Regions from separate parts of the Homo sapiens genome. Here regions 1, 2 and 3 are each linked to region 4. The links come from fine-mapping of genetic effects on gene expression. A gene starts in region 4. Each other region holds a variant in brackets. All regions are shown on one strand. Distances are from middle to middle. Region 1 overlaps EMID1 (EMI domain containing 1). Region 2 overlaps EMID1 (EMI domain containing 1). Region 3 overlaps LOC101929638 (a long non-coding RNA gene). Region 4 holds the start of EMID1 (EMI domain containing 1).

The links. PIP is the estimated chance that this variant, and not a neighbour inherited with it, causes the effect. A credible set is the group of variants that fine-mapping cannot tell apart.
Region 1: its variant is the best candidate, but not a certain one, in a credible set for the expression of EMID1 in spleen (GTEx, PIP 0.87).
Region 2: its variant is the best candidate, but not a certain one, in a credible set for the expression of EMID1 in stomach (GTEx, PIP 0.84).
Region 3: its variant is the best candidate, but not a certain one, in a credible set for the expression of EMID1 in whole blood (TOPMed, PIP 0.63).

The regions. Positions count from the first base shown.
Region 1 is chr22:29,234,065-29,239,800 of GRCh38, forward strand. EMID1 (EMI domain containing 1) reads left to right here. Exons shown (of 15, transcript NM_133455.4): 11 at 73-135; 12 at 241-285. Among named protein-coding and RNA genes, the nearest start is that of EMID1, 31 kb to the left of the region's middle. RefSeq lists enhancers at 1-81, 82-582. The variant A/C (reference allele first, on the strand shown) is at 2,205.
Region 2 is chr22:29,243,546-29,248,545 of GRCh38, forward strand. The region is part of intron 13 of EMID1 (EMI domain containing 1); the gene reads left to right. Among named protein-coding and RNA genes, the nearest start is that of RHBDD3, 22 kb to the right of the region's middle. The variant G/A (reference allele first, on the strand shown) is at 2,205.
Region 3 is chr22:29,177,960-29,183,755 of GRCh38, forward strand. LOC101929638 (a long non-coding RNA gene) reads right to left here. Exons shown (of 5, transcript XR_938134.3): 4 at 5,213-5,422; 5 at 2,304-2,704. Among named protein-coding and RNA genes, the nearest start is that of EMID1, 25 kb to the right of the region's middle. The variant T/G (reference allele first, on the strand shown) is at 3,162.
Region 4 is chr22:29,203,164-29,208,163 of GRCh38, forward strand. It overlaps EMID1 (EMI domain containing 1), which reads left to right and starts at 2,733. Exons shown (of 15, transcript NM_133455.4): 1 at 2,733-2,976. The coding sequence starts at 2,876. LOC101929638 (a long non-coding RNA gene) reads right to left here and starts at 2,669. Exons shown (of 5, transcript XR_938134.3): 1 at 2,308-2,669; 2 at 1,997-2,158. RefSeq lists silencers at 2,828-2,917, 2,928-3,087, 3,108-3,167.

The sequences.
Region 1 (5,736 bases), 31 kb after region 4:
ACCTCTGTTCCCAAGCCCCTGCCCACTCCATCCTGCCCCAACACAAGGCTGAGGCCCTGTCTTGTTGCTCAGGGACCCCCAGGCCCCACTGGACCCAAAGGAATCTCTGGCCACCCAGGAGAGAAGGGCGAGAGAGTGAGTACCCAGGTGGCCCCAGGTGGGGGAATTCTGGGGAGTCCTGAGGGCCCCAGGTCAGAGTCCTCAACAGCTGACGCCATTCGTCTCCTCCCTCTTACACAGGGACTGCGTGGGGAGCCTGGCCCCCAAGGCTCTGCTGGGCAGCGGGTAAGTGTTGCTGTCTGTCCCGCATTCATCCCTGCAGGATCCCTTAGTCCCAGATTCCTCCTGTGACTCCATCCCCTGCAACCAGAGCTTCTAACCCTCCCTGTCTTGTCATTTATTTTCAGATGCTCCCTGTCTCTGAGACTCATTGTCCTCTTTGGATTAGGCTGCCTCTGTCTCTCTCACTCTGGCTCTCTGTTTCTCTGTATCTCTCTCTTTCCCTCTGTACGTCTGTCTCTTTGACTCTGTATTTCATTTACACTCTATCTCTCCAATTCTGATTGTAGATCTGTTCATTTCTCTCTTTAATTTGGTGAATTTTGCTTTACGTATTTTGAGTCTTTGTTATTAGGTGCATTCACATTTAGTATTTTAATGTCTCCTTGGTCATTTTATCTTTATGAAATTAATATCTTTATCTCTGATAATACTTGCCTTGAATCGACTTTGTGTGCTTTTAATAGCACACCAGCTTTCTTATGCTTGCTATTTGCATGTTATATCTTTTTTTATCCTTTTTTTTTTCAACCTGTAACTTTATATTTAAAGTGCATCATGGCTGGGTGTGGTGGCTCACACCTGTAATCCCAGCACTGTGGGAGGCCGAGGAAGGTGGATCGTTTGAGCTCAGGAGTTCAAGACCAGCTTGGGCAACATGACAAAACTCTGTCTTTATATAAAAATATGTATATAAATTTTATTAAATGTAAGAAAGTGTGGACCGGGCACGGTGGCTTACGCCTGTAATCCTAGCACTTTGGGGGGCTGAGACGGGTGGATCACCTGAGGTCAGAAGTTCAAGACCAGCCTGGTCAACATGGTGAAACCCCGTCTCTACTAAATATACAAAAATTAGCCAGGCATGGTGGTAGGCACCTGTAATCCCAGCTACTCGGGAGGCTGAGGCAGAAGAATTGCTTGAACCCAGGAGGCAGAGGTTGCAGTGAGCTGAGATCACACCATTGTGCTCCAGCCTGGGCAATAAGAGTGAGACTTCATCTCAAAAAAAAAAAAAAAAAAAAGTGCATCATATGACTTGGGTCTTGCTGTTTAAAAACAGTTTGACTGTTTAGTTAATTTATATTTAATGATATGTATAATTGATTAATATGGTTCTGTTTAGCCATCTTGCTGTTTATGTTCTATTTATTCCTTCTGTTTTGTGTTTCTTTTTTCCCTTTTCTTTTCTTGTCTTCTTTTGGATTGAGTACTTTTTATGATTTCTTTTTTCTTTTTTAGAGACAGGGTTTCCCTATGTGCCTAGGCTGAACTCAAACTCCTGGGCACATAGTGAATGAAGTGTCTTAAGTGATCTTCTTGCCTCAGCCTCCCAAGTATCTGGGACTACAGGTGTGCACCATTGTGCCTGACTTAAAATCTTCTCTTTCTAAAATTAATTTTCTTTCTAGAATTAAAGCTTTCTAGAATTTAAGCTTTTTTTTTTTTTTTTTTTTTTTTTTTGATACAGGGTCTTTCTCTGTCACCCAGGTTGGAGTGCAGTGGTGCAATCATAGCTCACTGTAGCCCCAACCTCCCTGGCTCAGGCAATCCTCACACCTCAGCCTCCTGAGTAGCTGGGACCACAGGCATGTACCACCATGCCCAGTTAACTTCTATTCCTTTACATTTAATCTGTTTTGTGGTTATATTTAAAGTCAGTTTCTTATAGAAAACCTACGGTTAGGTCTTATTTTTTGGTCCATTCTAACAATCCTCATCTTTTATTTGCTGCATTTAGGCCATTGACATTTAAAGTGATTATTGAGGCCCAGCATAGTGGCCCACACCTGTAATTCCAGCACTTCAGGAGGCCAAGGCAGGAGGATCACTTGAAATCAGGAGTTTGAGACTAGAGTGGGCAACAAAATGAGACCCTTTTTCTATAAAACAAATTTAAAAATTGGCTGGACGTGGTAGTGTGC[A/C]CCTGTAGATTCAGCTACCTGAGAGGCTGAGCTGGGAGGATTGCTTGAGCCCAGGAGTTTAAGGTGACAGTTATAATTGCTTTACTGCATTCCAGCCTGAGTGACAGAACCAGACCTTGCCTCTAAAACATAACTAAATAGTCTGTGCACGGTGGCTCACACCTGTAATCCTGGCACTTTGGGAGGTGGAGGCAGGGGGATCACCTGAGGTCAGGAGTTTGAGACCAGCCTGGCCAACATGGTGAAACCCCGTCTCTACTAAAAACACAAAAATTAGCCAGGTATGGTGGCGCACTCCTGTAATCCCAGCTACTCAGGAGGCTGAGGCAGGAGAATTGCTTGAACCTGGGAGGCGGAGGTTGCAGTGGGCCAAGATTGTGCCACTGCACTCCAGCCTGGGCGACAGAGTGAGACTCCATCTCAAAAAAATAAGTCAATCAGTAAAATAAAAAATAACTAAATAAATGAAGTGTTATTTATATAGTTGGGTTAACAGCTACCATATTACTATTTTCTTTCTTTTTTTTCTTTTTTTTTTTATTTTTTGAGGCAGAGTCTTGCTCTGTCGCCCAGGCTGGAGTCTAGTGGCTGGATCTCGGCTCACTACAAGCTCCGCCTCCCGGGATCAAGCAATTCTCCTGCCTCAGCCTCCCAAGTAGCTGGGACTACAGGCGCCCACCACCATACCTGGCTAATTTTTGTATTTTTAGTAGAGATGGGGTTTCACCATCTTGGCCAGACTGGTCTTGAACTTCTAACTTTGTGATCTACCGGCCTTGGCCTCCCAAAGTGCTGGAATTACGGGTGTGAGCCACCTCGCCCAGCTACTATTTTCTATTTGTTTTCCTTGTTCTTTGTTCCTATTTTTGTCTGCCAGACTTTTTCTGCCTTTTTTTGGCTTTATTTATTTATTTACTTACTTATTTTCTTTTGAGAGAGAGTCTTGCTCTGTCACCCAGGCTGTAGTGCAGTGGTGTGATCTCTGCTACTGCAACCTCTGCCTCTTGGGTTCAAGCAATTCTCTGCCTCAGCCTCCTGAATAGCTGGGACTACAGGCACCTGCCACCCTGCCTGGCTAATTTTTATATTTTTAGTAGAGACAGGGTTTCACCATGTTGGCCAGACTGGTCTCAAACTCCTGACCTCAGGTGATCCACCCACCTCAGCCTCCCAGAGTGCTGGGGTTACAGGTGTGAGCCACCATGCCCGGCCATGCTCCTCCTTTCTTTATGTAAAATCTGAGTTTCTGGCCAGGCACGGTGGCTCACGCCTATAATCCCAGCACTTTGGGAGGCCGAGGTGGGCAGATCATGAGGTCAGGAGATGGAGACCATCCTGGTGAACACGGTGAAACCCCGTCTCTACTAAAAATACAAAAAAAATGTAGCTGGGCGTGCTGGCAGGTGCCTGTAGTCCCAGCTACTTGGGAGGCTGAGGCAGGAGAATGGCATGAACCTGGGGGATGGAGCTTGCAGTGAGTGGAGATCGCGCCACTGCACTGCAGCCTGGGCAACAGAGCGAGACTCCGTTTCAAAAAAAACAAACAAAAAAAATCTGAGTTTCTGACACATAATTTTTGTCCTCTCTGAAGAACTACCTTTATTTTTTCCCAGTTGGCTTTATTTGTGATTCTAGAATCGGGCAACACTTCATTCCATAAAATAAAATAAGTGCTCCGCTGAAGAACTTCTTTTAATGTTTCCTACAAGGCAGATCTACTGACAAAAATTCCCTCACTGTTTGTTTGTCTGAAAGTCTTCATTTCCCTTTCATGCATGAAGGATAATTTTTCAGGGTAAAGAATTCTAGGTTGATGTGTTTTTTTCCTCTCAATACTTGGTATATTACTCTCCACTCTCTTGCTTGCATGGTTTCTGCAGAGTTGGTTGTAATTATTATTGTTGCTCCTCTGCAGGAAAGATATTTTTTCCCTCTGTTTTCTTTTCAGTATTTTTTTATCTTTGATTCTCTGAAGTTTTTCTAAAAATTATTATTATTATTATTATTATTATTATTATTATTATTATTATTATTAGAGATAAGGTCATACTCTGTCACCTCAGAAGCCTTGAGGCTTCTGGGCTCAAGGGATCCTCCCGCCTCCACCTCTCGAGTAGCTGGGACTACTGTCATGTGCCACACCTGGCTAATTTTTTTTTCTGTTTTGAGATGAAATCTCACTCTTGTCCCCAAGGCTGGAGTGCAATGGTGTGATCTTGGCTCACTGCAACCTCCGCTTCCTGGGTTCAAGCGATTCTCCTGCCTCAGCCTCCCAAATAGCTGGGATTACAGGCACCTGCCATCACGCCCGGCTAATTTTTTGTATTTTTAGTAGAGACAGGGTTTCACCATGTTGGCCAGGCTGGTCTCAAACTTCTGACCTCAGGTGATCCGCCCGCCTCGGCCTCCCAAAGTGGTGGGATTACAGGCGTGAGCCACCGTGCCCGGCCATTTTTTTTTTTTTTTTTTTTAATTTTAGAAGCAAGATCTCACTATGTTGCCCAGGCTGGTCTTTCTGACCTCTAGTGATCCTCTTGCCTTGGCCTCCCAAAGTGCTGGGATTACAGGTGTGAGCCACTGCACCCAGCCTGATTTTCTGAAATTTGGATATGATATGCCTACTTGTCATTTCTTGGCATTTATCCTATATGGTATTCCCTTATCTTCCTAGATCTGTGGTTTGGTGTCTGACATTTTTGGGGGGAAAATTCTGTCATTATTACTTCAAATATTGCTTGTGTTTCTTTCTCTTTTTTCCTTCTGGTATTCTATTATGCATATTTACATCTTTTGTAATTGTCCCACAATTCTTGGATATTCTGTTCTATTCTTTCAGCCTTTTTTCTCTTTGCATTTCAGTTTTGAAAGTTTCCATTGTCATATCATCAGGCTTAGAGATTCTTTCCTCAGCCATGTCCAGTCCACGAATAAGCCCATCAATGGCATTCTTTATTTCTGTTACAGTGCTTTTTATATCTACCACTTATTTTTAATTATTTCTTAGAATATCTTTTTTTTCTTTTAAAAAAAATTTTTTTTTAATGTAGAGGCAGGGTTTTACCATGTTACCCAGGCTGGTCTCAAACTCCTGAGTTTAAGCAGTCTACCCACCTCAGCCTCCCAAAGTGTTGGGATTACAGGCATGAGCCACCACGCCCAGGCCTTTCTTAGAATTTCCATCTCTCTGCTTATAATCCATCTCTTCTTGCATGTTGTCTACTTTTTCCATTAATTCCCTTAGCATGTTAATTGTAGATTTTTAAAATTCCTGGCCTGATAATCTGAACATTTCTGCCATAACTGATGCAGGTTCTGATGTTTGTTGAATCTCTTCAAACTGTGTTTTTGCCTTTTAGTATGCCTTGTAATTTTTCACTGGAAGGTAGACATAATGTACTGTGCAAAAGAACTGCAGTAGATAGGCCTTTAGTAATGTAGTGAGAAGGTATTGGGGAAGGGAAGTGTTCTGGAGTCCTATGATTAGATCTCAGTCTTTTTTTTTTTTTTGAGACAGAGTCTCACTCTGTCTCCC
Region 2 (5,000 bases), 40 kb after region 4:
AGAGTATTCCCTCCCCAGGAGGCCCTGGGAGTGGGAGCATCCCATCCACATCCCCACTACAGCCTGGTCTCCCAGGCAGGAGCCTTGGCAATTATCAGCCCCAACTCCTTCCCCCATCTTGTTGCTCCCAACCGGGCAGGGCCAGCCCTATCAGCAGACCCCATGCCTTCTGTCTCAGTCTCTGTCCCTGTCTCCACCTTCCCTCTGTGGCCTTTCCAGGCCAGGGTGGCTCTGCCTTTTCCTCCTGGGTGGTTTGGGCTGACCCAGGCCAGACTGCATCCCCTGCCTCCATAGCCCCCTCCCAGCCAAGGCTTAGCTTGCTCCCTTGTCTGCAGAACAAAGGGAAGAATGAAGACAATATCTACACAGGAGAATGGGATAGAGGACCTAGGAAAGGGGCCTAGAAATGATGAGGTACATAGGAGCCACGTGGTAAAAAGGACAGGGAACTAGATACCACCATACACATCGGAAATTCATGAAGCCTGTGAAGAGACGCCTCGAAACTGCTATGTACACGTTTGATGTGGTTAATGAGGCCAGGTGACCTAGACTCCTCTATACTTAAAGGACCTATAGTTTACACAAGGTCCTAGACACCATCACATACATAGGAGACCCATGATGGATGAGAAGGGAAGCCTAGAAACTCTCACATATACAGGAGACAGAGTAAATGAGAAGGGGACAAGAAGGGGGAACTAGAAACCACACACCGCAAAATCTCATGATTAATGTGGGGTCCTAGAAACCTTCACAATCGTCCGGGATGCCGTGGCTCCTACCTGTAATCCCAGCACTCTTGGAGGCCGAGGCGGGTAGATAACTTGAGGTCAGGAGTTTGAGACCAGCCTGGCCAACATGGCAAAACCCCCATCTCTAAAATACAAAAAAATACAAAAATACAAAATTAGCCTTAAAGGTTTGGGCTAAAAATACAAAAATTAGCTGGACATGGTGGTACGCACCTGTAGTCCTAGCTATTCAGGAGGCTGAGGCAGGGGAATCGCTTGAACCCAGGAGGCAGAGGTTGCAGTGAGCAGAGATCGCGCCACTGCACTCCAGCCTGGGCGACGGAACGAGACTCTGTCTCAAAAAAAAAAAAAGAAAAGAAAAGAAAATAGAAACCTTCACAATCATTGAAAATCATTGCAGGGGAGGGATTTTCGGGTTAGGACCTAGAAATCTACTCACCCAAGAGACGTGGGGGAAAGACGAGGACCCTAAAACATACCATACCCAAAAGCCCCACGACACAGGGATCTGGAAACCATCACTGACAGGGGAGACATCTGGAAAATGGACAGAGTGGAGGCAGACACTCCTTCAGGAGAGAGAGACAACTAGGAAGCTCTTTTTGGCGGTGGGGGGGATTGTGACTCCCCCTCCACATGCAGTCTGGCTGGGACACCCTACTTCCTGGCAGTCACAAGTTAGTGAGGATGTGGGTGGCACCCAGTGCCTGCCTTGCCCTCTTAGTTCTTGATTGTGGGGTCAGTGATGGATACAGCCGTGGGAGCCCCCTACCCTGCACGAGTCTTCCCCTGTGTCTGCCCATGACTTCTGGTGCCCTGCTACCTCTCCAGTTAGCCTCTCCTGGCCCCTGCTGTCCTGAATCTCCTCCTACCCCATACCCATCCTCCGTAGCTCCAGAGTCTCTTAATACTGCCAGTATGGACATGAGCTGAGCTGGGATCAGATAGACCCATGCAAGCCTGGCTCTCTGCCTCCCCTAGGCTAATTACTGGCCTCTCCCAGAGGCCCTTGGTCTGGGAACACATTTACCACCCAGTCCAGGAGGGGTGGGAGAGATTGGGCAGTCCTGTCCCTTCATGAGAATCCCCGGCAGGATGCCCTGGCCACCCTAGACCAGTCCTTGAACCCAGAACCACCTGTGGGCTCCCCGCAAGAGGTAGCAGGGCCCCTGCCCACCCACCTTCCTGCCCCTCTTCTACCTGCACTTCTGCCCCTGCTTGCTGCTTGCCTGGGAGGGGACCCACTGGGCTGGGGGCTGCATGAAGCTTTGGGGGCTGGGGGAACAGCTCTGTTGGGGACAGGTGGGAATGAGGTTCAGTGCTGGCAAGGTCCCCGAGGGCTCCTATGTACACTTCACCAACCAACTCCCTTAGTGCAGCTTGCAGATGCGTTCTGGCTGTGGCCCAGCAGTGACACCTGGTGGTCATGATAGTGCACTGCAGGAACTG[G/A]AGTGACTGTGCTGGGCCTGCCCACCTGGATCAAAGCTCTCACCCCTTATTCAGACAGGGAAACTGAGGCCCGACTCGGCAGAGAGAATCCTTGGCAGAGCGGGAACTGGAGCCCTGACTTTTAAGTTCCTAGGGCCAGAGAACCAGCTACCATTCCCCAAGCATCTCCTCCATAGGCACCAGACCTGGAGCTGGGCACTGTTTACACAGATGCAATTCAGACACAGTCCCCACCCTCAGGGTGGTCACAGTGAGGTGAGGGAAAAAAGACCTATAATCAGCAGCTACAGGACTGTCAACTTTATAAACACTTTACACTTTAGCATCCTCCCGGAGGAGCCAGGTGAAGCCTGAAAGGTGCATTAACCAGGCACGGAGTGTCCAGGCAGAGGCGAGGGTACAACAGGTGCAAAGGCCCTGTGGCAAGAGGGAGCCTCGGATATTTGAGGAGCTGCAAATACTTGGAGTGGCACTGTGACAGGTAGAGAGTGGAACAGAGGCCAAAGAGGCCTTCAGGGTGTAGGAGGCCACGTTCAGGAATTTGGACTTTGTTCTAGGGCAGTGGGGAGGCATTGAAGGCTCTAGAAGCAGCAGAGTGATGCGGTCAGGTTTTTTTTATTTGCAAAGAATCCCTCTGATTGCCATGGCGAATGGATGGGAGAAGCAGAAAGACAGTAGGTCGGGGGCTGTCGTGGTCATCCTGGTGAGAGACTGAGCCGGGCAGTGGGTGGGAGCCAGTGAGGACAGACAGCCGTCGATGGAGCAAAAAGACACTTGTGTGCTGGTCTGGCTGCAAAAGGGAGTGAGGAGTCAAGGGAGACTTAAAATAGCAAAAGAGAACCAGGAGAAGCAAGCAGGCTGAGTTTTGTCTGTGGACCAACGGGAGGAGTCTGTGTTACAGCCAAGTAGGGTTGTCCAGCAGGCCCAGACACTTAGATCCGGAGTGCAGAGGGCAGGCCAGGCTGAAGGAGACTGGGTTGTCATCAGTGCAAACATCAGGCCACCTGGTCTGAGGGAGTTCCAAACAGTGGATTTTAAAAACACTTTTCCCCATATTTTTCTTTTTAATTTTATGTTTTAAAAAATACAGACAAGAACTCACAATGTGTCCCAGGCTGGTCTCAAATTCCTGGCCTCAAGTGATCCTCCTACCTCAGCCTCCCAAGGTGTTGGGATTACAAGTGTGAGCCACTGCACCTGGCCTCCCCAATATTTTTGTTTATTTTTATTTTGTTTTTTTCCTTTTTTATTGAGACAGAGTCTCTATCGCCCAGGCTGGAGTGCAACAGCTCAATCACAGCTCACTGCAACCTCTGCCTCCTGGGTTCAAGCAATTCTCGTGCCTCAGCCACCTAAGTAGCTGGGACTCTGTAGCCATGCCTGGCTAATTTTTGTATTTTTAGTAGAGATGGGTTTGCGCCATGTTGGCCAGGCTGGTCTTGAACTCCAGGCCTCACGTGATCCACCCGCCTCAGCCTCCCAAAGTGCTAGGATTACAGGTGTGAACCACTGCACCCAGCTATTTTGCATTTTGATATACAGAAAAGTTGGTACAATGAATGTCATTCTGCCCTTCCTGTAGATGGACCAATTATTGGTACAGCCATGTGTCACTTAATGATGGGGATATGTCCTGGAAAATATGCCATTAGGTGATTTTGTTGTGGCATGAGCATCATACAGTGTACATACACAAACCTAGATGGGATAGCCTACAACACACCTCAGCTGTATGGTGTAGCCAATTGCTCCCAGGCTACAAACCTAAACAGCACGTTACTACGCTAAATATTGCAGGCAACTGCAACACAGTCGTAAGTATTTGTGTATCTAAACATAGAAAAGGTACAGCAAAAATACACCATAAAAGATTTTTGGAGCTTTTTTGTTTGTTTGTTTAGGACAAAATCTTGCTCTGTCGCCCAGGGTGGAGTGCAGTGGTGTGATTTCGGCTCACTGCAACCTCCATCTCCAGGTTCAAGCGATTCTCTTGCCTCAGCCTCCTGGGTAGCTGGGATTACAAGCATGAGCCACCACGCCCAGCTAATTTTTTGTATTTTTAGTAGAGACGGGGTTTCACCATGTTGGCCAGGCTGGTCTCAAACTCCTGACCTCAAGTGATCCGCCCACCTCAGCCTCCCAAAGTGCTGGAATTACAGGCGTGAGCCACCGCGCTGGTGAAATTAATTTTTTTTTTACTTTTTTTTTTTTTTGAGACAGAGTCTTGCTATGTCTCAAGAAAAGTACAGTGGAGTACAGTGGCTTGATCTCGGCTCACTGCAACCTCCGCCTCCTGGGTTCAAGCGATTCTCATTGCCTCAGCCTCCCAAGTAGCTGGGACTACAGGTGAACGCCACGATGCCCAGCTAATTTTTTTGTATTTTTAGTAGAGATGGGGTTTCACCATGTTGGCTGGCCAGGCTGGTCTCAAACTCCTGACTTCAAGTGATCCGCCTGCTTCGGTCTCCCAAAGTGCTAGGATTCCAGGTGTGAGACACTGTGCCTGGCCCTTTTTTTTTTTTTTTTTTTTTCACTTTTTAAATGTTTTTGCTAAAAACTAAGACACAAACACATACATTAGCCTAGGCCTACACAGGGTCAGGATCATCAGTATCACTGTCTCCATGTCCACCTCTTGTCCCACTGGAAGTTCTGGGCAGTAACATGCATAGAGCTGTCATCTCCTATGATAACAATGCCTTCTTCTGGAATACCTCCTGAAGAACCTGCCTGAGGCTGTTTTACAGCTTAACTGTTTTTTAAATAAGTAGAAGGAGTACACTCTAAAATAACAAT
Region 3 (5,796 bases), 25 kb before region 4:
ACTATACCAGAAGTTGTCTCTGAATATGTAATAGTCATTTGCTACATAATGACATTTCCGTCAATGATGGACCACATATACAATAGTGATCCCATAAGATTATAATTCTGGGGCAGGTGCAGTGGCTTATGCCTGTAATCCCAGCACTTTGGGAGGCCAGGGCAGGTGGGTAGCTTGAGCCCAGGAGTTCAAGACCAGCCTGGGCAACATGGCAAAACCCCATCTCTACAAAAAAATTTTTTAAAATTAGCCAGGCATAGTGGCTTGTGCTTGTGGTCCCAGCTACATGGGAGGCTGAGATGAGAGGATGGCTTGAGCCCAGGAGGCGGAGGTTGCAGTGAGCTGAGATCGTGCCACTGCACTCCAGCCTGGGCAACAGAGTAAGATCCTGTCTCAAAAAAAAAAAAATTATAATACTGTATTTTTACTGTACCTTTTCTACGTTTTGATGCACAAATACCACTGTGATACAGTTACCTATGGTATTCAGTACAGTCACATGCTGTACAGATTTGTAGCCTAGGGGAAATAGGCTACACCACATAGCCTAGGTGTGTAGTAGGCTATCTCAGCTAGGTTCGCGTGAGTGCACTCTGTCATGTTCACACAATGATGAAATCAAATCAAATCACATTTCTCAGAACATATCCCCATCGTTAAGTGACTCATGACTATTTATTAATAAATAATACAGTAGTCCCCCTTTATCTGGAGTTTCACTTCTTACGGTTTTGGCTACCCATAGTATAGTAAAAGAAAACAGAGAGAGACCACATTCATATAACTTTTATTACAGTATATTGTTATAATTGTTCTATTTTATTATTAGTTATTGTTAATATCTTACTGTGCCTAATTTATAAATTAGGCTTTATCATAGGTATGTCTGTACAGGAAAAAACATAGTGTATATAGGGTTTGGTACTATCTGAGGTTTCAGGCATTCACTAGGGGTCTTGGAACACATCCCCCATGGATAAGGGAAGACAACTGTACATCACAACCAGTGGGATTTCTCCTAGGACTGCAAAGTGGCTTTAACACTGGAAAATCAATCAGTGTAATTCACTGTATTAACAGACTAAACAATTAAAATGATCAGATCATTTCATTAAAGGCAGAAAAAACATTTGGCAAAATCCAAGATTCGTTCCTGATTGTTAAAAAAAAAATTAAGCAAGCCAGGAATAGAAGGGAATCTTCTTACCTAATAAAAGGCATCTACCAAACAAAACCCTATAATGAACATTAGGGTTCATTAATGTTTTTCCCCTAAGATCATGAACAAGACAGGTCTGTCTACTCTCACCACTTCTATTCAACATTGTATTGGAGATTCTAGCCCATATAATCAGACAAGAAAAGGAAATAAAAAAAATTCAGATTTGATATAAAGAAGAAAAGTTGCCTTTATTTGCAAAAAAAAAAATGTTCATCTAAGTTAAAAATCTGATGGAATTTGCAAAAAAGCTGCTGGAACTAATAAATGAGTATAATAAGGTTGAAAGATACAAGATCAACATAAAAAATATATTACTAGCAAAAAACACCTGGACATTGAAATTTTAAAAAATACTATTTACGGTAGCATAAAAATATGAAATAGACTAAACAGAACAAAAAAGTATGTTAGGCCTATACAATTAAAGCTACAAAACAAGCTGGGCGTGGTGGCTCATGCCTGTAATCCCAGCACTTTGGGAGGCTGAGGCGGGCGGATCACGAGGTCAAGAGATCGAGACCATCCTGGCCAAGATGGTGAAACCCCGTCTCCACTAAAAATACAAAAATTAGCCGGGCATGGTGGCGCCTGCCTGTAATCCCAGCTACTCAGGAGGCTGAGGCAGGAGAACCGCGTGAACCTGGGAGGCTGAGGCAGGAGAACCGCGTGAACCCGGGAGGCAGAGGTTATAGTGAGCCAAAATCGTGCCACTGCACTCCAGCCTGGGTGACAGGGCAAGACTCCGTCTCAAAAAAAAAAAAAAAAAGCTACAAAATGTTTCTGAGAAAAAGCTCTAAAGGTCTAAATAAATGGAGAGGTATACCATGTTCATGGGTTGAGAGACTCGATACTGTCAATATGTCAATTCTTCCCAAATTAATCTACAAACTCAACATAATTTCAGTCAAAGTCTCAGCAGGCTTTTTTGGTAGAAATTTACAAGCTGATTACAAAATGTATTGGAAATGCAAAAGCTTAGAATAGTCAAAACAACTTTGAAAAAGAGGAACAAAATTAAAGGACTTAAATGACCTAACTTTAAAACTTATTACAAAGGCACAGCAATGAAGACAGTGTGGCATTGGTGTACAAATAGACAAGTAGTTTAATAAAGCAGAACAAAGAGTCTAGAAACAGACTCACAGATATATGGTCAATTTTCAACAAAGGTGCAAACTGGACATCATCAAAATTAACCTCTCTCTGCTCTTTGAAAGACGCTGTTGGCTGGGCACAGTGGCTCACGACTATAATGCCAGCACTTTGGGAGACTGAGATGGGTAGATTGCTTGTGCCCAGCAGCTCGAGACCAGCCTGGGCAACATGGCATAACCCCATCTCTACAAAAAATTAGCTGGGCATGGTGGCACACGCCTGTGGTCCTGGGAGGCTGAGGTGGGAGGATAGCCTGAACCCGGGAGGTTGAGGCTGCAGTGAGCCATGATCATGTCACTGTACTCCAGCCTGGTGATGAGCGAGACCCTGTCTCAAAAAGAAAAAGAAAGACACTGTTAAGAGAATAAAAAGACAAGTCACAGATTGAAAGAAGATATTCGTAAATCACATATCTGATTTAAAAAAGACTCATATCCAGAATATATAAAGAACTCTCAACGCTCAATAATACGAAAACAAAGAATTTTTAAGAGTGCCCATGGGGAACAAATAATTGAAACAGACACTTGATCAAAAAAACACGTACGGATGACAAATAAGCAGGTGAAAAGATGCTCCATAGCATCAATCATTAGGGAAATGCCAATTAAAATCACAGCGAGACTACTACGCATCTATTAGAATGGCTTAAATTTGAATAACTGGCAATACCAAGGGTTGGTGACGTTGTGGAGCAACTGGAGCTTTTAGGTACTGTTTTACAATCACTTTGAAAAACAGCTTGGGCTGTGCGCAGTGGTGCATGCCTGTAATCCCAGCACTT[T/G]GGGAAGCTGAGGCAGGTGGATCACACGAAGTCAGGAGTTCGAGACCAGCCTGACCAACATGGCCAAACCCCATCTCTACTAAAAATACAAAAATTAGCCAGGTGTGGTGTTGCATGCCTATAATTCCAGTTACTCAGGAGGCTGAGACAGGAGAATTGTTTGAACCCAGGAGGCAGAGGTTGCAGTGAGCCGAGATTGTAACATTGCACTTTAGCCTGGGCGACAGGGCGAGACTCCATCTCAAAAAAAAAAGAAGGAAAAGAAAAACAGCTTGGCAGTTTCTCTCATACTTCACATACAATTACCTTGAGACCCAGCAGGTCCACTCCTAGGTATCTAACCAAGATAAATGAACACATATGGCAATACAAAAATGTGTATGCAAATGTTCATAGCAGCATTATTTATAATAGCCCCAAACTGGTAACCAACTTAATGTCCATCAACAGGTGAGTGGACAAACAAGTTGTGAAACATACCTAGCAGGAAAAAGAAATGAACTAGTAATATGCACAATGACATGGGTGAAGCTTAAATTATTATGTTGCATAAAAGAAGCCAGACCAAAAAAGAGTACATACAGTATGATTTCATTTGTATAAAATTCTATAGGCCAGGTGAGGCGGCTCACGCCTGTAATCCCAGCACTTTGGGAGGTCAAGACAGGAGGATTGCTTGAGTCCAGGAGTTCGAGACCAGCCTGGGAAGCATAGGGAGACCCCATCTCTACAAAAAATAAAAAATAAAAATTAGCCAAGTGTGGCAGTGTGCATCTGTCTTCCCAGCTACTTTGGGAGGCTGGGGTGGGAGGATCGCTTGAGCCTGAGAGTTCAAGGCTGCAGTGAGCTATGATCATGCCACTACACTCCAGCCTGGGTAACAGAGTGAGACCCTGTCTCTTAAAAAGAAGAAAAATCCTAGAAAATGCAAAATAATCTATAGTGACAGAAAGCAGATCAGTGTTTGCCTGGGAATCAGGAGAGAGGTGGGTGACCAAGGGGAATGAGAAAACTTTTGGGGGTGGTGGATAGATTCACTGTCTTGATTGTGGAGATGATTTCCCAGGTGAAGACATGTCAAACTGGTGAAATTTTACACTCTGTAGTTTATTGTAACTACAGGCCAGGCACGGTGGCTCACACCTGTAATCCCAGCACTTTGGGAGGCAGGGGTGGGTGGACTGCTGAGCCCAGGAGTTCGAGACCAGCCTGGGCAACATGGGGAAACCCCATCTCTACTAAAAATACAAACAACAACAACAACAACAACAAACTAGCCAGGCACGGTGACACATGCCTGTGGTCCAAAGGATCACTTGAGCCTGGGAGGTCGAGACTGCAGTGAGCCATGATTGCACCATTGCACTTCAGCCTGGGTGGCAGAGTGAGACGGGGAGGGGAGGGGAGCCTTCTCTCCTGCCTTAAGAGGGGAGTCAGGATGCAAAGCCAGGTCATCTGACCCAGAGCCTATGTCCTTACCTGGCTGTCTCCTGCCTCCCAGTCTGCACCCAAGATGATCCCTTTGGGGCCCTAAATGGTGCTCAGATTCTCCTGGGAATATGTACAGGGCCTGGTGTATATGATCCTACATGAGGCTTTTTGTTTCTTTTGTTTTTGAGACAGGGTCTCACTCTGTTGCCCAGGCTGGGTGCAGTGGTGCAATTATAGCTCACTGCAGCCTCAAACTCCTGGGCTTAGGCAATCCTCCCACCTCACCCTCCTGAGTAGTTGTGACTATAAGCGCATACTAACACGTCACACTAATTAAAAAAAAAAATTGCAGAGATAGAATCTCGCTATGTTGCCCAGGCCAGTCTCAAACTCCTGGTCTCAAGCAATCCTCCCACCTTGGTTTCCCAAAGTGCTGGGATTACAGGCACACACCACCACACCTGGCCCCATATGAAGTATTTGTAAGACTTCACCTTCATCTGACTATGGTAGTGATAGTGACAATGGTGATGATGATTTTTCTTTTCTTGTTCCATGAGCCTCAATCACCGTCAGCTCCCTGAGAACAGCTCCTAGGTCCTATAATGGCATATTCCTACCTCAGGGCCTTTGTAGAGGTTGTTTCTTCACCCAGGGACACCTGGATCATCATACTTCATCAATTAATTGCTCTCATCCTTCAGCTTTCATCTTACAAGATTTTCTTTTCTTATGCTTGTAATCTCAGGGTTTTGAAAGGCCGAGACAGGAAGTTTGCTTGAGGCTAGGAGTTTGAGACCAGCCTGGGGCAACACGGCAAGCTCTTGTCCCTATTAAAAAAAAAAAAAATTAGCTGGGCATGGTGGTACACTCCTGTAATCCCAGTTACACAGGAGGCTGAGGCAGGGGGATCACTTAAACCCAGGAGTTCCAAGCTGCAGTGAGCTGTGATCATGCCACTGCACTGCAGCCTGAACAACAGAGTGAGAACTTGTCTCAAAATAATAATACTAATAAAAAGGCCAGGCGCGGTGGCTCACACCTGTAATCCCAGCACTTTGGGAGGCCAAGGCAGGCCAATCATGAGGTCAAGAGATTGAGACCATCCTGGCTAACACGGTGAAACCCCGTCTCTACTAAAAATACAAAAAATTAGCCAGGCGTGTTGGCGGGCGCCTGTAGTCCCAGCTACTCCGGAGGCTGA
Region 4 (5,000 bases):
CAGAAAGCCGGCTGTCATCCAACAGGAAAGTGAGCCCTTAAACGGGGGCTTCAGCTGTGCCCCAGGGCCACTGAAGGGGAGACCTGACGTTTTCACACTTTCCCAGAAGCTCAGACTCTTGAGCCAGAGGGACCTTAAAAGTCCTATGTGGGAGGGTTGCTTGAAGCCAGGAGTTCGAGACCAGCCTGAGCAACAGAGCAAGACCCTGTGTCTACAAAAAATATTAAAAATGAGCCAGATGTGCTGTCATACACCTGTAGTCCTAGCTAATCAGGAGGCTGAGGCAGGAGAATCGCTTGAGCCCAGGAGGTTGAGGCTGCAGTGAGCGGAAATGGCACCACTGCACTCCAGCCTGGGTGACAGTGTGAGACCCTGTCTCAAAAAAAAAAAAAAAAAAAAAAAAAGAAGATCCCATGGCTTGTTTTTTCAGGCAAAGAAATGAAGCTCAGAGAGGGGAAGTGACTTGTCTTGGGTCACACAGCTCCCAGAGGTTGCTCTGGAATTGACACCCTGGCCTATGGGTCACATGGCTTGTGGGGTGTATCCATCAGGCCACACAGCCACAAGGTGATAAATAGTGATAAATAAATCTATATTTATTTATCCGGGTCTACAGTGATAAATAAATACCCTGGACCCGGGAATCCCAGCCTCAGTAAGGACAGGCCCCTCTCTGATGTGAAAATGTTGATAACAGCTTTTACCAGGAGAGTCTCTTGCTGGGGAAATTCTGCAGCGGCCTGAGTCTGCCACAAGTTTGATGGCATTGGTTAAGAAATGTGGATGCCATTAATCGCAGGAGCATCTCAGACATGTTGCAAACAGACCTAGTAGTGCCTCCTCATTCTGTGGCACCCATCTGACACCCTAGACACCTCTCAGTCCCTCCAAGGCATTATCCAGTGCTTCTCCTTCCTAAACAGCTGCATGTTTGAGCTTCCTAAACAGCTCAAAGCACCCCTGGGGTGATGGGTTTTTATCTGGGCCGCTTGATTGGGGTTTCAGACAGGCCTGGCATCCTCTTGGGGGCATGGCTCCTCAGGAGTGACGAATTATCCAGGGTGTTAAGTCACTGATCTAGCTGTGTCAAAAACAAGGGCTAACCAGAGAGGTACAAAGCTGCATTTCTTGGAGGTCAGAGAGATGGCACAGGAGATGTGCCAAAATTTCACGTGAAAAGGAGGGCAACAGCTCCCCAAGGGGGCAACATTGGCACCATGGTGATGTCGCTGGAGGGAGAGGGAGCCCTTGGGGGACTATGTGAAGTAGGGGAGAGTGGGTGACAGGCCATTACCATGATATCTCAATCCTTCCCACACTCCTGTAACGAATGTACAACTGTCCTCCCTGCAAAAGAAACACTGAGGCTGCGAGAGGGGCAAGACTTGCCTGAGCTAACTGGAGCAGAAGTAGCAGAGGCAGGGTTTGAACCCAGCTCTCACTACCTGTCCCTTGGGACAGGGCAACAGCTTTCTCTATGTGGACACACTGGTGATGGATCCCCCGTCCTGCCTGCCTGCCTGCCTATGGTGGCCTATGCTGCCTGCCCCTGGTGAGTCCAGGAGGGGCAATCCAGTGACTGGCAGATCCTTTCTGGGGAGTGTTTCTAGAAGGGACCGTGGGTCTGGACAAGCCATAACAGGAAGTAGCCAAGCTGGGCAAGGGCTTCCCCAGCCCAGGCCTAACTACTGCCCATCGATCCAGGCAGAAGGCGGGGTTAGAGACTGCCCTGGGAGATTGGGGGTCTGGGTCCCCTCTGATGAGAGCTCTGGTCTCTCCCTATAAACACACACTCCTATCACAGACACACACATAACACACATGCACATAAATCCACATCAAGCATGCACACACATCCATCATACACACATACGACACACACATGCACCCCTGCACACACACACTACGCTTACATATACCTTTGTGGGATGTAGAGCCATTCCTCCAGAAGCCCATCCATGTACCCCAGATGAAACCACCCAACACCAATTCTTACCTTGTTACATATGGTGAAATCAAGGCATAGACCGAAGTGCTGTGGTTAAGAGCTGTTACTCTCCGAAGTCAGGCGATCTGGGTACAAATCCTGGCTCTGCCAAACCCCTGCCACGGTGCTTTAGGTAAATGACAGCTCCTTTCTGTGGCTTAGTTTCTCCACCTGTAAAATGAGAATAAGAACAGACTCTGCACTTATGGGGTCAGCCCAGATCTCCTCCTAGGGAGACTGCGAGTGCCTGGGCCTCAGTTTTCTCTTCTGTAAAATGGGGATATTGTGCCCAGTTCGAGCAGAGTGGCTTGAAGAGTCACCTGAGATAGGATGTGAAGTGGCCGCGGTGAGGTGCCCAATACACGTGGCGCGCACTGCTCAGGAAGCTTTCCTTGGAGGGCTGGATCCCGCAAAGGTGTCGAAAAAGGATGAGTCCCGGATATCATTCGCTCAGGTGAGGTGGGTTCGGGTCCCGGCTGCGTCTGGGACCGTGGCCCGGGCCTCAGTTTCCCAGTCTACAGCCCGTGGGAGGACACCTCGGAGCTGGCACCCCGCCCCCAAAAGGGCCCCGCGGCGCAGGGCGTGGGGCTCAGGTGGACACCTGGCGGGCCTCCTGGCGGGGGCGCCCTGGCCGCCCGGGCCCCTCCGGGCTCCTTCCGGGTTGGCAGCGGCGGCGCAGGGGGCGGGGGGCAGCGCAGAGGGGCCGGGCGAGGCCGGGAGCGCGCGCCCCCGCCCCCGCCCGCCCGCCTCCTGCCCGCCCTCCGGCCGCGGAGCTGGAAACCGGGCTCCGCGCGTCCGGGGCGGCTGGCGGCGCGGGCAGGCAGGCGGGGAGGACAGGCTGGGGGCGGCGACCGCGAGGGGCCGCGCGCGGAGGGCGCCTGGTGCAGCATGGGCGGCCCGCGGGCTTGGGCGCTGCTCTGCCTCGGGCTCCTGCTCCCGGGAGGCGGCGCTGCGTGGAGCATCGGGGCAGCTCCGTTCTCCGGACGCAGGTAAGAGCTCCCGGCGCCTTTGCACCCCGCTGGCCGAGGGTCCCGGCGCGCACACGCCCCCACCTCCAGGAAGGGCTGGGATTGGAGGGCGATCCAGTCCCCAGCCCGGGTGAGGGCAGGGACACGGCCATCCCGCGGTCCGGCTGAGGCTCCCGCGAGTGCGGGGTCCCCTACTCCATGTGTCGGAGCTGGCTGCCTCCCCTACTCCCTCCCTTTCAACCCAGGAGCTCGAGAGGAGGGGGAAGGGGCGCAACGAGGGCGAAGCCCTGGCCCTTCTGTTCCCCTGTCCCTAGGGCCCCTCCCCCTGCACTTGGGAAAGGCCTATGACACCCCCTAGCCGACTCTTCTCGGACCCTCTCTCCCCTTTTCCCTGTTCCTGTTTTTTTGCTTTGTTTTGTTTTTTGTTTGTTTGTTTTGTACCCAGGCTATTTATCTCCCTCGGAGGAGGGACTGGGGTGGAGTCTCACAGCCCAGTGGGTCAGTGTCGGAGATACCCCAGGGACCTGGCATTTTGGACAGAGAAAAGAGGGAGCACAGTCTTCCTTCTGCTCTCCTAGCGGCGGGGAACCTCCTCCCTGCTGGCCTTTACGGAGGAGCTCCCAGAACCTGACATGGTGGGGCCCATTATTATATATAGTGTCCTCATCAATCCTTGAAGGACCGAATGAGGTAGGGAAAACTGTCCCCATTCAACGGTTAAGCAAACTGAGACCCTAGGGAATTGGCATCATCTTTTAGCCTCATGGGCTATTCACTGAAGAGCTAGGTTGCAAATCTGCCCTTCTATCCTTGATGACAGTGTTTGAACCTGTCCTGGCCTCTGTCCTGGCTGCAGCCCCAGCGAGGGTCCCCTCCTAAAGGCCAGCCGCCGTTGTCCAAGGCAGACAATGTGGAGTAGCCAGGCCTCTCCAGGCCTTTTCATCCCATTCAAAGGCCTGCGCGGCCCCCACCCCCTACGGCCTCAATTCTTTAATTCTTTTCAGAAATTCTCCTTTCCCAGTGGTCAGGGGCCAGCATGCCCCTGCTGGGCTAGCAAGAGCAGTTGACATGGGCAGGGCTGGAGGACGGAGGTGGTTGAAGCATCAGAGGCCAGAAGAGCAGTTGTCTGAGACAGGGGTGGACGTGTGGCAGATGTTACAGCCACCACCTATTGTGTGCAGACAACAGTTAGCCTGAGTCGGCTCCGTTACCTGCATTCATCAGCTCCAGAATCCTCCCAGCTGCTTGGAGGTATGCTCTTTATGATTCTGTTTCATAGAGGAGGAAGATGAGGCTCAGAGAGGGAACATGACCTGCCCAGAGCATGGAAGTGAGCCGCCAGGATCCCAGATGCTAAGAGGACAGAGACTATGAACTCAGAAATCCCACTGTTAGGCTCAGGATGATGGTGGCGACAGCTTAAGGCCCAGACCGCCCTGCAGCCAGTTCAAGGCAGGGCTTCCCAGCCTGGGCTCCTCACCTCCCAGGGTCTCCTGGGTGGGAACAGGATGATGGCTATAACCAGGTATCTGGTGGTCACTGGGGACTGTCACTCCATGTGTTGACAGAAGCCTATCACAGTAGCCTGAGCATCCCAAAAACCCTGTGGGCAACACTATTGCACCCATTGTACAGATACGGAGGCTGAGGCCTACAGAGGACAAGTGGCACCTCAGTCCAGACCAGTCGATTTCCAAATCCAGTGGCTTTTTCTCTCCAGCAGCCTTGCTGGAAGAGGGAAAGAGGTTGTCGGCTTGGGGGCACCAGGAAAGGTTTGCAGTCATGATTAGGAGTTAGGGGCTCCAGCCTTGGACAGAATGGAGACAGAATTCCTTGCTCTTACAGGCTTGATGTGTGACCTCAAGTGGGTCACTTCCTGGCCATGGGTCTCAGTTTTGCTCTCAGTTTCCTTCTTTCCTCGTGGGAAGGACCAGCACCGGGCCTCACCTGCAGTGGTTCCTGCTATCAATCATGTCACATGGGGGTAGGGACCTGGAGCTTGAGGAGTCTGTGGGCTACCAGAACCTCCACTTGTGGCCCCATCC